2 separate regions of the Homo sapiens genome follow, and region 1 is linked to region 2. A link means that fine-mapping ties the variant in region 2 to the expression of a gene that starts in the linked region. Tissue or cell type: whole blood. Region 2 holds a variant in brackets; the other region holds the start of a gene. All regions are shown on one strand. Distances are from middle to middle.

What was found. PIP is the estimated chance that this variant, and not a neighbour inherited with it, causes the effect.
Region 1: TFB1M starts here. The variant in region 2 is fine-mapped to the expression of TFB1M in whole blood (TOPMed, PIP above 0.99). The same link has a PIP of 0.9 or more in lung.

Annotation. Positions count from the first base shown.
Region 1 is chr6:155,310,252-155,318,411 of GRCh38, forward strand. It overlaps TFB1M (transcription factor B1, mitochondrial), which reads right to left and starts at 4,233. Exons shown (of 7, transcript NM_016020.4): 1 at 4,045-4,233; 2 at 937-1,088. The coding sequence starts at 4,177. RefSeq lists enhancers at 4,008-4,327, 4,326-5,316, 4,398-4,447, 4,998-5,047 and a silencer at 4,498-4,577.
Region 2 is chr6:155,249,947-155,258,141 of GRCh38, forward strand. It overlaps TIAM2 (TIAM Rac1 associated GEF 2), which reads left to right. Exons shown (of 27, transcript NM_012454.4): 21 at 1-23; 22 at 967-1,075; 23 at 1,999-2,057; 24 at 3,002-3,107; 25 at 4,027-4,114; 26 at 4,473-4,627; 27 at 6,538-7,777. The coding sequence ends at 7,175. It overlaps TFB1M (transcription factor B1, mitochondrial), which reads right to left. Exons shown (of 7, transcript NM_016020.4): 7 at 6,188-8,136. The coding sequence ends at 7,890. Among named protein-coding and RNA genes, the nearest start is that of CLDN20, 10 kb to the right of the region's middle. RefSeq lists enhancers at 3,837-4,411, 4,412-4,985. The variant G/A (reference allele first, on the strand shown) is at 3,833.

The sequences.
Region 1 (8,160 bases), 60 kb after region 2:
CTGAGCCAAAGGTTCAGGACTCTTTTAAAATTTTAGAATTATGGAGGAATCAAAGGCCTTTAAGACATTAAGTGTTCCCCTATGAGGAAATCCCTTTACAAGATCCCTGATACAATCTATTTCACTGTTTGCCAGCGTTTTAAAAAAAGTAAGTTCCTCCTTATTTCAAATCCTCAATCCTGCCTCCCTCAATTTCCATCTATTTGTTTTAGCTCTTTCTTAGAAAAGATCAAAACAAGCTTATCCTATGTACCCCCAACCTTGGATGTGCTGCTATATACACTCTTACCCAGGGCCTCTTTTCTCCAGTTGAAACATGCCCAGTTCCTTCAACTCTCATTTCTTATACAATAACAGTGCCTGTATTTTAAAGATGCATGTATCATTTCATTTAAACCTCATCCTAAATCTATAAAAGTACAACTTCCTTCCTTCACTTAAAAAATTTACCTTATAAAAGAATGCTTAAGCTTCATAATTAGTCTCTCATGATGACAAACGTGCATATGTCTTACTCATCTTTTGTTTGTGGAAATGCTTTTTGAACCTAAATGAAGTTCTCAAAAGTCATACCAATGAGTCATTACTGGCCATTATTTATTTTTATTTATTTTTGAAGGAATGGGCCACGACATGCATAGCTATTAGCAGACTTAAAAAAAAAAATCACACAAAACAATTAATTTGTTTAGCATAAATGCTTAAAGCAGGTTTTTTTCAAGGTGTAGTCAATAGACCCTCTGAGAGTGCTTGTTAAAAATGGAGATTTCCAGATTTCTCCAGACTATGGAATCAAAATCTCTGGAATGGGGCCTTGGGGATCTATAGTTGAGGAAAAACCTACATAATCTTTGGATACCTTGGGGTTTAAGCATCATGGCATAAAGATTTAAATTCAGCTTTTGCCTCCTAAAGCAGACACTTTAAGCATCTCACCTGTAATCCAGGAATAAATCGAGTGTCCTTTTCAACCACCAGAAGTTCAGCGACGTCGGCATTAAGAATAGATCTTGTGATTCCCCCTGGCCCAGGGCCCACTTCGTAAACATAAGCATTTGTCAGATTGCCAGCTTTCCTTACAATCTTATCTAGAGGAAAAAGAGTTTTAGTTATCTCAATTAACTTGGCAAATTTCAACGTATGAAATTTAGAGAGAAAAATCTTCTATAAAAATTCAGCCATTACCCAATCAATTGATCCTTTATGTATAATATTTATTTGACTATTTAACTCTCTACCTAAATTAACATGAAGTGGCAATCGAATATGCTACCACATCACCATTGAACTGTACCAGTCCCTTAACACACACAGGATTATCATGACAAAGTTTCTTAGCTTAAATTTAGCTAATATTGTAGTTTCCATCTGTCCCATGCAAATTCCTTTCAAACTGATTTGAAACCAACCGACTCCTAAGAACAGACTGGATAAGAATGCAGCACTTTTCTATAGTTATTGAACATTGAATATCTGAATAAGCAATACTAGTTTCACATTCAGAATCTTCAGTATTGCTAGTGAAATCCAAAAGCAAAAAGTGCTGAAGTCTTATTTTTATCTAGAGACATCTTGGTGGTGGTCACTATGGCAATGGCAATAAGTTCTTAGATCGTAAGATTTTCAGAAATTTGAATTCTTAGTCATTTTCAGGAAAAAGTTAAATTGAGCAGTTGAGGGTTTTTAAAGCTTTGCACACATGCATGTTAATACAGAAAAATTAATTTTTTAATTAATCAAATTCAAGTTAGCAGCCCTTAAGACATCATAAAAAGGTAGAGTACTGACTCTGTGCAACCAGTCATCACATCTGGAAAAACATGCAATGGGCTGGTCTTAGTGATTCTGAGATATGGAAATCCAAGGAACTGGTCTTCCTAGGATAGTGGAAATTTAGTCACTAAAAACATACCAGCACTTCTTGTAGGTGTTCACAGTCCTATTTTTGCTTGTTTTCAACAACATAACTTTGTCAGCTAAAATGCGGAAACTAGTTTCTCAGCCATCCAAAAATGGTTTAGTCTTTTAACAGGGAGGGAATTAGCATCCACTGACCATCTTATCTATTATGATGGATTTACACACATTCTCACCTAATCCTTACATGTTAACCAAGGACTCCTATCCCAATTTCATTTCTCTTAACTTTTCAGTTTCCTTGTCTATTGTTTTATTTGTACAAGGTCATGGACTTCAACATAGGTATAAATCCTAAAGCCAATGCCTCTCAGAGGGAACAGGAATGATACATTATGGAATAAATTTAATACTCTCCTTCTTTAAAATGGAGAGCTACAACAGTAGGCAGGTCTCTGCTCTCAAACTTTTCAGGCACATTGAAATACAAATGAATATTAAAGAAGCGCTATCAAATCAATGAGCTTGGATTTCAATCTTGCTCTCTTCTGCCTGAGCTTCTAACCTCAGCTAAGTACCCTCATCTCCGTTAACTCTGGTTCCCATAGAAAGAGTGGATAATATCTAGAATTTGAAACTTACTCCTGAAGATAAAGGCTCATGAGAAAATGTATTTGAAGGATTTTAAAAAATACACAGACCTATAACTTCTGCCCTGAGAATGGTGATTTATATTTAGAATGTGGCTAATAACAAGCAGAAAAGGCTGGTACTAGCTATTACTAGAACCAAAGAATTTTAGAGTGGGCAATCTTTTAAAGTAGTAGGCCCTTCTTCCAATTAAAAGATGAGGAAACTACTGGACATGGTGGCTCACACCTGTAATCCCAACACTTTGGAAGGCCGAGGCGAGTGGATCACTTGAGATCAGGAGTTTGAGACCAGCCTGAGCAACATAGTGAAACCCTGTCTTTACTAAAAACACAAAATTAGCTAGGCACGGTGGCTCACGCCTGTAATCCTAGCTACCTGGGAGGCTGAGGCACGAGAATCACTTGAACCGGGGAGGCGGAGGTTGCAGTGAGCTGAGATCATGCCATTGCACTCCAGCTTGGGCAACAAGAGTGAAACTCCATCTTAAAAAAAGAAAAAAAAAAAAAAGAGAAAACTTGAGTTAAATTATTTTATCCAAAGTCATATTGGTACAGGCAGAATAAAGACTACATGTCCAAGAAATAAAACATTTTATGTTTTCTGGAGTGTGCTTCATTTAAGTGAAAATGAACTTTTTGGGTGTGATTTACTGCTCTTTTCAACTTCTGAAGTGGGACTAAATAGAATGAAATATGAAAATCTCAAAACCTAAGTACTCCAGCCGTGACTTAGTAGACGTATTTGTAATATATTTTTGCAACCTCATCTCATAGAACATCACTAAGCAATGGTGATGGTGGTTAAACCAATATATAAATACATTCGTCAAAACTCATCAAATTGAGCACTTCAAACTTATTAATTTTATTGCACATAAATTATATCTCATAAAAAGTAACTTTAAACAATTAGGTGTGGGAATGTAAACTTGCTAAAAGTAAGCTCCTCGAGGAAACACCGCCTTGTTCACGCCCATATCCTACCCCCGGCACTAGCACAATGTTGCTTGTGTAATATGTACTTATGAATGAATATTAGCGCCCCCGAGGCTTAGACTGAACAGGTAAACGTTTAAAAAACGAATCATACGAGGGATACTCTTTTCACCAAGTTATTGATAAAATCCTCGCATCAATTTAAATTCTGGTAACTTTAAACTGCATGTAAAGCAACTGCAGTCAGCATGTGCTGTACTATTTCAGAATGATTGATTTCACAGTGACCCAGATTCCAATATTCACTAGCGCCTTTCACGACCCATGAACCCTTCCTCCCCTAGGGAGCTTGGCATTTATGCAGCCTGCCGGCAGGCTACACCCCCCCGAACGCGGAGTTTTGTGAGCAATCAACGCACTTCACGTGTCTCCTGGGCGGTGGGACCGGAGTTCTGATACAAAGAGGTCGAAGGACCTGACCAAAAGCCCGTCGCACGCCAGTGCCTGGACACCCGCCCGCGGGGACGTGCAAGACCCCCCGGCCCACGCCCCCACGGACACTGGGGAGACATCCGGGGAGCACTGCTAAGCCATCCACCTGTCAGCCTCAAGTCCAGGAGGAAATTCTGTGATAGCTGCTTCGCTGCTTGCAGTCTTAACAACTTAATGATTTCTCGAATCGTGGGCAACGGAGGGAGACGGCAAGTGCTGAGTTTTCCGGAGGCAGCCATGATACGCGGCAAGCACCATCCAACCCTACCTCACCCAGGACCTTCACCGCCGCTCCGAAAGAAACGCGCAGGGGAGGAACCTGCGAGACCTAAGGCCCGCCTCGGAGTCAGCCCCATTGGTCAGACCTATCCCACCGGAAGCGATGACCGCGGACAGGAAATTCCCGGCGTGCTGAGAGCGCATGCGCTAAGTCCTGCCGCGAGAAGGGCAGGCTGGGTGGTCGGCGGCTTCCGCCTGTGAGAGCCGGGGGAGAGCCGGGTGGACTAGGCTTCTCCTGGGCGGGCTATGGGGAGAGCGCCCAGGAGGGCGGGACGAGGCGGGGCCTGGACAGGGTGGGGTTTTTCGGAGGAGTTGCTCTGAGAGGTGCAGCCGGTTTACTCCCGCCCTGAAGTTCCCAAGGGCTTCCGGCTCTTTAACGTTCTAAATACCTGTCTGTGAATATTAGAGGAAAAGCGGGTGCTTAGAGGCAAAGCTACTGTTTGTTAGCAATTCTTTCTTACTGTGAGGCGTTTTTAGAACCGCCGCTCTGCAGATGCTGCATGATGGGTTTTTAACTTCGTTCAGCCTCAGTTTTTTCATCAGTTAAATGGAGCTAATGTCTACCTCAAAATTGTGAGCACTAAATGAGAGAGATCGCCTGGTGTGCACGTTCAGAACATAGTGCACGCATGGCATTGGGTAAGCTCCCACGTGATCAGTGGTGGCTGTTATTATTTGGCAGATGAATAATTGGCCAGTGTAAAGAGGTCATTCGATTTGCTAGGATTACAGCTAAGAACAGAGAGAAGACTGAAATATGAGTTCTGTCTTTCCGTTATACGAGATAAAAACAACGAAGCAAAAAAAAAAAAAAATTAAAGTTTCTCTGATAGGTGGGAGAATTTTGCTGTTTTAACCCTGCTTATGTTTGGACATTGCTGCGTTGATCACAAATGAATTTTAAAGTTTCTGTTCCTCAATTAGTAAGTTTTTAAAAAAGCTAATGGAAAACGAAACAACTATGGGTATGGATATAAAAATGAGGAGTACTTTGAAATTCCAGTGGAAAACTCAACCACCTTCTATAAAAGCTGTTTTAAAAGGAACTGAGATAATCTCCTAGCTTTAAAAAATAGTGATGACTACCATAGAGGTAAGGAGATTTGCCCAACGTGGCATCAAAATGTAGACTGGAAGTACAAACTCTTGATTCAGATATCTTATCGTCCAAAACACAGTATACCTGACAAAGCATTATTTCACAGTTATATTCATTATTTCCCGTACTCCTCACAATGGTCCCATGTGAATGAGATTATTATTCTTAGTTTGCTGTGAAGAAATAGGGGAGGTGAGGTCATTTGACAATGCCCAGAGTCAGACAGCAAAGTACAGAGAGAAGACAACCTGAGTTGTGTTTTTTCTGAGTTCTGATCTCACTGGCCACACTCAAGTATCAGCTTATTATTTTTAAGTTAATATGTGTTAATTTTGTAACATCTAAATATATAGAAATACGAATCTAGGTGTAAACATAAGCTTACAGTTTTCATATGACTATTTAAAACAATTGCAATAAATATATACAAAACCAATACAAATGGTCTTATTAATTGACAAGGATGAACACTGTTAAATCACGACACTTAGTGCTAACTGGCAGGTTTTCTTTTTTTTTTTTTTTTAAGTTTCAGCCTACCAGTGATCCAGTGTGCCATGTAATGACTGAATGTTCTCATTAGTTTTCTGGAGTCAAACTATTACCAAATCTTTGTTCAATTTTTTTTCCATTGTCGCTTGTCTTTCTTTTGGAAGAATATGGAAGCTACATATTAAGTCTGCCTGCATCTGTTTTCAGTAGCTTGGAAACAAGTGAATTTGAATTATTTGGCACTAATGCTACCATGAACACACACGTTGTGTAACAGGTATAAAGAGGATGTTCAGATGACCCCAAATATAATCACATGAGCTTTTTAAAAGATTAACATCAACATAAAAACAAACTAAAATCTAAATGAGTGAAACACCTTTGCGTGGAGAATTTGTAGATTCCTGATAATTTGTCCCCAGATCTAAATATGAATTTATGGATGGTTTATACCATGCCATCTTCAATAACTGAACCTATTTATAAAGCAGCTTCCTTTGTTACTTAATTCTCATTTCAATTCTGTGATGTAGGTTCACAAAGATGTGTCTTAGTTCATTCCTGCTGCTATAACAAAATATCTGAGACTGGGTAATTTATAAAGAACAGAAATGTACTTCTCACAGTACTGGAGGCTGAAAGTCCAAGATCAAGGAGCTGGCAAGTTTGTTGCCTTGTGAAGGCTGCTCTCTTTACCTCAAGATAGCATCTTGTTGCTGCATCCCCCAGAAAAGAGGAATGTCATGTCCTCACATGTCCAAAGGCAGAAGGGCAAAAAGGGATTAGCTAATTCCCTCCAGCTCTTCATAAGGTTGCTAATCCCATTTATGAGAGCTCTACCTCAATCAATTAATCACCCACTTAGGGCCTCCCTGTCAATATACTATCACATTGGTGATTTAGTTTCAGCACATGAATTTTGGGGGACATTCAGACCATAGCACAGTGCTTTGCTAGTAAGTGGTGTAACTGAGTTTAGATCTTCTGACTGCACTGTGCTTTTTATTAACCTCTGATACGTGTTAAATAATTTTTTAACTGAGTTAAAAATTCTAGCTTAGGAGAATCTTCCAAGTTTTTAATAGTTCTTGAGATCCAATTTTTATCATAAATATCTAATCCTCAGTTTTTAATTTTCAGAAAATTATGCATAACTCCCTGCAAAAGCCTAAGAAATCAGCAGGGGGTGTTTTAGTAGTGTATTTCACATATTAATGCAAATGGTTTTATCCCTTAAAAGAGAGGTATGCAGTTTCATCAGTTTTGAAGCTTTGAAGTGTCTGCTTCATCTAGATACAGATTTTAATATGCTAAAATATTATAATTAATACAGAAATCACTAGCCCCACCTGTCAGTGAAGATGAAGAACTACAAATGATTCATGCTAAACTATATTGTAGTATTCTAATTTGCGTAAAATCCCAAAATGATTATGTAGGAAAATTACTTATTATTTTAGTATTTACTTTAATAAAAATGCATATGTGACTTTATTTGGTATAAGTGATTTAGTCTCTATTTATAGAAAAAGTGCTAATTTTAAAAGGTTGTCATTTTACCGTTCCCTGAAAGAGACTTGAAAGCTGCAGAGAGCAATATCTTCCTGCCATGTGGGAATTTTCAGAGAAAATTAAATGTGGCTTGGAATTGCCAAATTGAACTTTATAAAATGACTATTATGGTATGTAAAGTGCCCTTTTCCGATAGTATTTTATAATTACATATAATATGATTCAATGCTCCAGAGAAATACTAAGAGCTGCATTTCACACATATTTAGGGTTTTTTTTGTTTTAATGGCTCTTTGATGCACACTGTTCATTCACAAAGGAATCTAGTGACCTACCTAGAGGGAAGAAGGAAAAACGTGATAACTCTGAGCAGACGGACCAAATGCTTATTCTGTGGGGATAGAAGTAGGGCAACTTATGGCAACAACACGAGCTAATTGCCTGAGGGAACCATGGAACACTTACACTATTTTTGAAAATACAGCGTTTATCCCTGTTTCAAGCAGTATTTGAAAGCCTGCTCATTGTCCCCAAAGGTCTGTGAATTATTGCCAAGTATCCTAATAAGATGTTGAGGATGGGCAACTCGTTCGACTCAGGGAGCTATGGGTAGGGCTTTTTCCTATACAGTAAGCAAACCTTTTTGTGAATGAAGAAAATATGCTAACAGCATTATAAACGAATTAGCCTTTATTATATAGGCAAACCTTTGAGATACTATGGGTTCAGTATCAGACCACCAAAATAAAGTGAATATCTCCATAAAGTGAGACAGATGAAGTTTTTGGTTTCCCAGTGCATATGAAAGGTATGCATACATTCTATTGTTGTCTATTAAGT
Region 2 (8,195 bases):
AGCAGAGCGGAACAGAGAAGGAGGTCCGTGAGACATCTGCACCCTGGGAGCCTAGTGCATGTGGTGTGGGGTCTGTAGGTGACCTTCTAGATAGGCTGCCCTGTTAGGACTTTCCTGGAGGAGAAAATGCCTAAGATTTTTCTTGATAACAATGTGTCTAATGAACTACACAATTTACATATAGACATATCATAAAATTCATTACACTGGTTTAAAATATAACCTTATGTCACGTTCACATTGTCTGGAACATCCATGGAGGGTGAGAGCTGGCAGAGGGTGGGGTGGAGAAAGGACATGGGAACTGGCATGTGGAGTCTGGGGCTTTTCCTTTTTGATTTTGCCTTTTTTTTTTTTTTTTTTTAACATCAAATATTGGTGGTTACCTGCTTACTTATAAAACTAGTCCAAGCAGGATTTGACATTTTCTGTATTTTTCCTTTTTATCTGATTGCTTAATTTAGAATCTTGTGCTTCTCAAGCCAGCATGCAGGAAGTAGCATAGTTTAGGGAGAAAATGGCAGGAACAGGAAAGGACTGGAGATCAGTCCTTCACTCTGGCCAGTTTCAATGCTGGTGCTCTTTTATCAGCAGCCCGAATGGAGCTCAGAGGTGATGGATGTACTAGATCCCAGGGGAAAGCTTACAAAAGGCACTCTGGAAGAACCACGGACACTGGTAGAGTTCATCTTATGGAAACTGAGTTGGTCACAAGGCATGTCTCACCTACATGTGCGTGCACTGGAGCAAAATGCCTTCACCTTTATGTTATTCATCAGACACTTGGGTGCTTAACTCATATTTTCAAAAGCTCCACCGTTTAAGGCCCCATGTTTACAGGTATCATAAAAATTAAACCAGCTGTGCTTGCATTTTAGCAATGACTGTGTGTACATCACTATCTAACAAGAGATCATCTAGCCTGGGATTTCCGTATCTTCCTTACCTCCTGTTTTTACAATCTAGGTAACAGAACTTTCGATGGGAGAGCTTCTGATGCACTCTACGGTTTCCTGGTTGAATCCATTTCTGTCTCTAGGAAAAGCTAGAAAGGACCTTGAGCTCACAGTATTTGGTTAGTATTCCATTCAGAAGAATGCAGACTGAACAGAGGCTGGGATTACGGAAGAACTTCACTAGCCGCACCAGTCCAGCTCACTCCTGAGCTCCAGGAGTCAGAATTGCTATAATGGTTGGGGACTTAACAGGGCCAGCCCCCAACTATTTGAAACTCCGGCATCGCTCTGCATCCTCATTATCTTGTTCTCCCTTCTGCTGCTTGGCTCAGGCCAAGTGTTACAGGAACAGATCCCTGCGGCTATTTTGAAACCTGCTATCTTTTTCTTTTTCTTTTTCTGAGACGAGGTTTTGCTCTTGTTGCCCAGGCTGGAGTGCAATGGTGTGATCTCTGCTCACTGCAACCTCCACCTCCCAGGTTCAAGCTATTCCCCTGCCTAAGCCTCCTGAGTAGCTGGGATTACAGGTGCTCGCCACCACGCCCGGCTGATTTTTGTATTTTTAGTAGAGATGGGGTTTCACCATGCTGGCCAGACTGGTCTCGAACTCCTGACCTCAGGTGATCCACCTGCCTCAGCCTCCTGGAGTGCTGGGATTACAGGCATTAGCCACCGTGCCTGGCCAGAAACCTGCTATCTTAATAGTCTGCTGTATTTCAAATGTTTTAATTCTGAGAGTTGGGAGAACAAGTGACAGTATATTGTCACTGAGATGAACACAGTGTCCTCAGCTTTCAATAAAACAAAGAGTTTAAAAAAGCCAAGATCAACTTCTAATAGTAGCTTTTAAATAAGCAGGTGCTTCTGCATAGTTCAAATATGAGCGAAAGGGAAGTACCATTTATTCACTCATGTTGGCAGAGTGAGGTCTTAGAGACTCATACGTTTGGAGAGTGTTACTCTGTTAAGACGTTCAGCTCTAGTTTAACCTTGGAAGAGTTTGCATAAAATAAAGACTTTCTTTCTCTTTTCCTTTCTTTAGTTTTTAAGAGAGCCGTCATACTGGTTTATAAAGAAAACTGCAAACTGAAAAAGAAATTGGTAAGGCAAAAATTCATTTTAATTTAAGCTACCTTTTCATAGCTGTATCTTCCTATTAACGTTGAACTGAAAAGCCCACTGAGCACCAAGGCTGGGCTGACTGATACTGCTTACTCTGAGGGTAACTAACCCCATCACATACTGAGAGCGTTTCTGAGTCTCCCCATGAAAGATGTCTGTTTTAAAAGAAGATATACAGCTGGGCACGGTGGCTCATGCCTGTAATCTCAGCACTTTGGGAGGCTGAGGCTTGAGCCCAGGAATTTGAGACCAGCCTGGCCAACATGGTGAAACCCTGCCTCTACCAAAAATACAAGTAACTGGGTGTGGTAGCACGTGCCTGTAGTCCCAGCTACTCGGGAGGCTGAGGCAGGAGGATCAATTGAGCCCAGGAGGTGGAAGCTGCAGTGAGCCTTGATCATGCCACTGCATTCCAGCCTGTGCGACAGAGTGAGACCCTGTCAATAAATACATAAATAAGTAAATAAAGTAGATAAATACTCATATGGGGGCCTACATAGAACATCGACTTTTATATCCCTGAAAATGGCCCATGTTTGTTCCATAAACATAGTCTGTGAAACTTTGGTTTATTTTCAAATGCCTTTTACCTTCACTCAGAAAAAAGCAAAGCCTAGCTGTGGATACCATATGCCATTGGTTTACCATTCAGAGGCAGCGTCAGGGCGTGGAAGCTTTGGCTGCTGTTCTTGCTTTGAGACCTGTAACTGCTTCTGAACCACAACTCTGCCTCCGCACCTTCCCTAGCATGTGAGGTCTTTGAGAACTGGGTGCGTAGCTGATTGACTTCTGTGCCCTGAACACCCACATGGCTGCTCGGAGACTCGCCCACAGGGAGAACATAAACTTCTATTCACTGTGCACACATCCTCCCTCAGTGACAGCTTCCCTAACACTTTTCTTGGTGGGCCTTCATGTTACAGCCCTCGAATTCCCGGCCTGCACACAACTCTACTGACTTGGACCCATTTAAATTCCGCTGGTTGATCCCCATCTCCGCGCTTCAAGTCAGACTGGGGAATCCAGCAGGTAACTGTTTCGTGCAGTATGATGCCAGAAAAAGCATTTTAGTAGACTTAACTGTGGAATGTAAATTAAGAAAGGACCTTGGGGATAATTTTTGGTGCCTTTTATTTTATAGACAAGGAAAATGAGGACAAGAGAGGTTGTTTTGATGTTCCTTAGCAGACTTCTGGGAGAAACTAAATGCTGGTGGATAGCTTTTTCTTTGCCAAATGCCTTTCATTGTTTCCTTATTTTCCCTATCAATAGTTTTCAACATTTTCCTTTCTGCCTTGATACCCTAAAATGTGTTAGAAGAACAAAGATCCACAAATTTATGTTTTTACAAATTTAGAATATAGCAGAAAATTCCTTAAGGTTAGGTAGTACTGTAGGTGATATAAAAAGAAAAAAATCTTTGACTCTGGAAAATGTTCAGAGATCCTTCCAGAGTAACCTTGTTTTGGTGACAGGTATCTGGTGACAGAAGAGGCCAGCAGGCTGAGTCATGCAGTGACCTGCTGGGCTTCTGTTTAACTTTTGTCAGAAGTGCTTATGTTTTCGAGAAAATGACCACATTTGGGGCAGGCCTCTTTTACCTCAAGTACCCCAGCTCCTGTTCCTTCCAAGGAAAGGGCAAAACTGCAAAGGAGGTTGAAGAATAGGATCCACTGAATCTCCTCTTCCCCAGAGAGGGGCTCCAGAGAGAGGGTGAAGGCAGTTCAGATGGAGGAAAATCTGCAGCAGGAAAT[G/A]TAAAAAGTAACCAAAAGGCATTTCAGTTCTTGTAACTGTGAAAATCATACATAGAACAAGCCACAGAAGAAAATGAGCCAGGACTGGGAATATTAGACTTTCTTAACTGATGAGATTTCAACTTTACAAGTGTTCTTAACCACAGCATTTTGGGCAAAGTTGTAGACTCTTGTTTCCATTTCCTTTTACATAGGGACAGAAAATAATTCCATATGGGAACTGATCCATACGAAGTCAGAAATAGAAGGACGGCCAGAAACCATCTTTCAGTTGTGTTGCAGGTATGACTGACTTCCAAAGATTAAAACCAACAGAAATAACATAGAATTATGTCTCTTAAGGGAATTTATATTTAGTGCCCTCCTGAATTTTGATGATATCAGGGTCATACTCCCCACCCTCCGAAAAAGGCAACTGAGGCCGCTAGTAGGAGACTATGTTGATTAAATAAATATCAAAATCTTAAGAGTGATCAATTCTCACCTCCTTCTGTACGGGAGGCCACATGGCACTGCTGCTGGGTGGCTGGCTGGCAGCCTGGTCCAGCAGGTGCAAGGCACAGGAACACAGGCGGGCGTGGAATGGAAGCACGATGAACACTGTGGACACTTCTGCTGTTTTCTCTCCCCCCCCACCCAGTGACAGTGAAAGCAAAACCAACATTGTTAAGGTGATTCGTTCTATTCTGAGGGAGAACTTCAGGCGTCACATAAAGTGTGAATTACCACTGGAGAAAACGTGTAAGGATCGCCTGGTACCTCTTAAGAACCGAGTTCCTGTTTCGGCCAAATTAGGTGAGAATTTTGCTAGCCTTGTGTTTATTCAACAAAATATTATGAGCTTCTGAAAAGGATATATGCTCTTGTAACATAGCTGTGACTTTTCACTTTGTAAGTCATCGAGGTACCTTTATCTCCTTTTAAGAAACCTAAACATGCCTCTTGCTCCCAGACGTTCTACTGTAAAATACAGCCACCCCCAACCCCCAGTCCCTTGTCTTCCTACCCGCTGACATAGTCCAAATGTACGATTTTGTTTCTTCCACTAAGATGTGCATGGGTCCAGGGACTTTGTTTTCCTCACTGCTGTATTCCCAGTGCTCAGAACAGTGCCAGGCATCCTGAAGGTCAATGCTGAATGAAGATCAAGAACCTTACACAGAGGGTCTCCACCTTCTGATGGTTCAACCTACAATTTTTCGACTTTACCGTGGTGTGAAAGTGACACACATTCAGTAGAAATCGTACTTCGAGTACCCAGACAACCATTCTGTTTTTTGCTTCTAGTGCAGCATTCAATACATTTCATGAGATACTCAACACTTAATTATAAAACAGGCCTTGTGTTCTGCCCAACCATAGGCTAATGTAAGTGTTCTGAGCACACTGAAGGCAGGCTAGGCTAAGCCGCAGTGGTTAGTAGGTACATTAAATGCATTCTCGACTTTCCATATTATCAACTTAACAATGGGTTGATTGGGATGTAATGCCATCTAAGTTAAGGGGCCTCTTATACTCGTTCTTAATCGATAGGGCACCAAGTAAGCATTTCAAATCACGTTGTTCTTTCTGCTTGTTTCTAAAATTTCAGCTTAAGTTTTCAGAACCTTATTTCTACATTAACTATTTTGTTATTATCTTTCTTGTTTTTAGGCTTAGAAAATGTAAAACTTCGCTTTTTCATGTCAAATCAGTGTGACCTCTTCAGATCTACCACATATTTACTATTTTCTCCATTGTCAAAATAAACTGGCCATCAAAATAACATGCTGTTATTACTTTGTAGAAACACCAAAACTGAGAACTCCCTTCCTTCTTTCAATCCAAGAGAACAGAACTACACACACACACACACACACCTATAACATAAAATTTCAGAAAGTTGTTTTGAAATTCCAGCAGAGACAGTTCTCATATGAGAGATAAAGAGCATTTTCTAGGCTGGGCATGGTGGCTCATGCCTGTAATCCCAGCACTTTGGGAGGCCAAGGCAGGTGGATCCCTTGAGCTCTTGAGAACAGGAGTTTGAGACCAACCTGGGCAACATGGCAAAACCCCATCTCTACAAAAAAAATATAAAAATTAGCCAGGCGTGATCATGCGCACCTATAGTCCCAACTACTCAGGAGGCTGAGATGGGAGGATCACTTGAGCCCAGGAGGCGGAGGTTGCAGTGAGCAGAGATCACACCACTGCACTCCAGCCTGGGTGGCAGAGCAAGACACTGTCTTTAAAAAAAAAGGGGGGGGGAGGGGCATTTTCTACTTTTAATTGAGCAGCAAGGGAAATCCACAAGGTGAGAAGATGCATAGGAATATGGTGTGATCTTCATGATCAAATTACAAAGCACCTTAGTGAAAGAAAGGAGCCTAGATTTATTATTACCAATTAACTTTTCAACTTACTCCTTGGCAAAATAAGAATCTTAGCCCATGTAGTAGTTTCTAGTGTCTAGTTCTATTTACATAATTGAGCTCTGGTAATCTAAAAATGCTGAATTGCCTAACTTACAACTGTAAACCTAAGTCAAAAATGTCCATGTTTTCAGTAGCTACATTTTTGCCTAATTACCAGGATAGTTGCTAACTGAAGTCATATCATAAAATAAAATCTTAATGTTAAATCTTACACAAGCTTTGAGGCAAACATTACACATTGTGTAACCTGTTTCTGTATCACAGCGAAATGTGTTTTTCTCACTGTAGCTTCATCCAGGTCTTTAAAAGTCCTGAAGAATTCCTCCAGCAACGAGTGGACCGGTGAGACTGGCAAGGGAACCTTGCTGGACTCTGACGAGGGCAGCTTGAGCAGCGGCACCCAGAGCAGCGGCTGCCCCACGGCTGAGGGCAGGCAGGACTCCAAGAGCACTTCTCCCGGGAAATACCCACACCCCGGCTTGGCAGATTTTGCCGACAATCTCATCAAAGAGAGTGACATCCTGAGCGATGAAGATGATGACCACCGTCAGACTGTGAAGCAGGGCAGCCCTACTAAAGACATCGAAATTCAGTTCCAGAGACTGAGGATTTCCGAGGACCCAGACGTTCACCCCGAGGCTGAGCAGCAGCCTGGCCCGGAGTCGGGTGAGGGTCAGAAAGGAGGAGAGCAGCCCAAACTGGTCCGGGGGCACTTCTGCCCCATTAAACGAAAAGCCAACAGCACCAAGAGGGACAGAGGAACTTTGCTCAAGGCGCAGATCCGTCACCAGTCCCTTGACAGTCAGTCTGAAAATGCCACCATCGACCTAAATTCTGTTCTAGAGCGAGAATTCAGTGTCCAGAGTTTAACATCTGTTGTCAGTGAGGAGTGTTTTTATGAAACAGAGAGCCACGGAAAATCATAGTATGATTCAATCCAGATATGGGTTAAATTCCTCATTTTACTTTTAAACTGGTGGTAAAGTGGAAATTGCAAAAAAAAAAAAAAAAAAAAACTGTTCATTCCTGGGTTTTGTGCAGTATACATTTTCCCACAAAATGGTTGTAAAGATTTAAGTTATTTTAATTTATTGTGGATCAGAAACCTAGATGAAACTGGTCAGAATCTGTAAATTACTTAGTTTATATCCACTTTGAGCAGGTATCAAATGATTTAGGATCCTTAAAATTACATTCTAATAATTAAGTTATGTGGAAAAAGTAAGGCTGGGGAAGTCGTGATTAATAGTTTTCAAAGGGCCATTTTTTAAAATCCTCTGGGCATTTTCTTTCAGCTGTTTGTTAGTTTTTGCTTTATTTAAAGCATATTTAAGTTATTTTAATGTGGTTTAGGGGCAAAATGTGCAGATACTTCATTTTTGTAAGATAGATTGTAATAGATGCTGTTTATACTAAACATGTCATAACTATCTATACAGTATATATTAAAAGAAAGCTTGTACTGTATCTTATTTGATGATATTTATTTTCTCTGCCAAGCTGTATAGTAAAAGGAAAATAAGTCACATCTGGTCATTGGCATTTGTATCGTCATTCTGTAAAGACAAAAGAGTACCTATATAAGAAGCTCCACGTAGTGCAAATCGACATCTGGTAGGCTGCTCGCCCCCAGGCAGCAGCTAGAGTCTGTAATTCTCTGCGTCATCCTCTTCTTTTTCTTCATTTTTGCTTTTTCTTCGCTTGAGTTCTTCTCTGAAATTATATGCAAAGAGTTGTGGGTCTTCATCACACATTTTTCTGTATACATCACAGAGGCTCTTAAAGTGTGAGATGGAGAGCTGGCGGGGCCGAAGAGTAGGGTCTATGTCTGCCAACTCTAACAGCCTGCCCGTGCTTTCCAAGCGCTGCGCTTCAGGGAATAACATTCTGAGGGGAAGACAGACAGACAGAAAAATAAGAATTTTACTTAAATTCTGCAAATCATG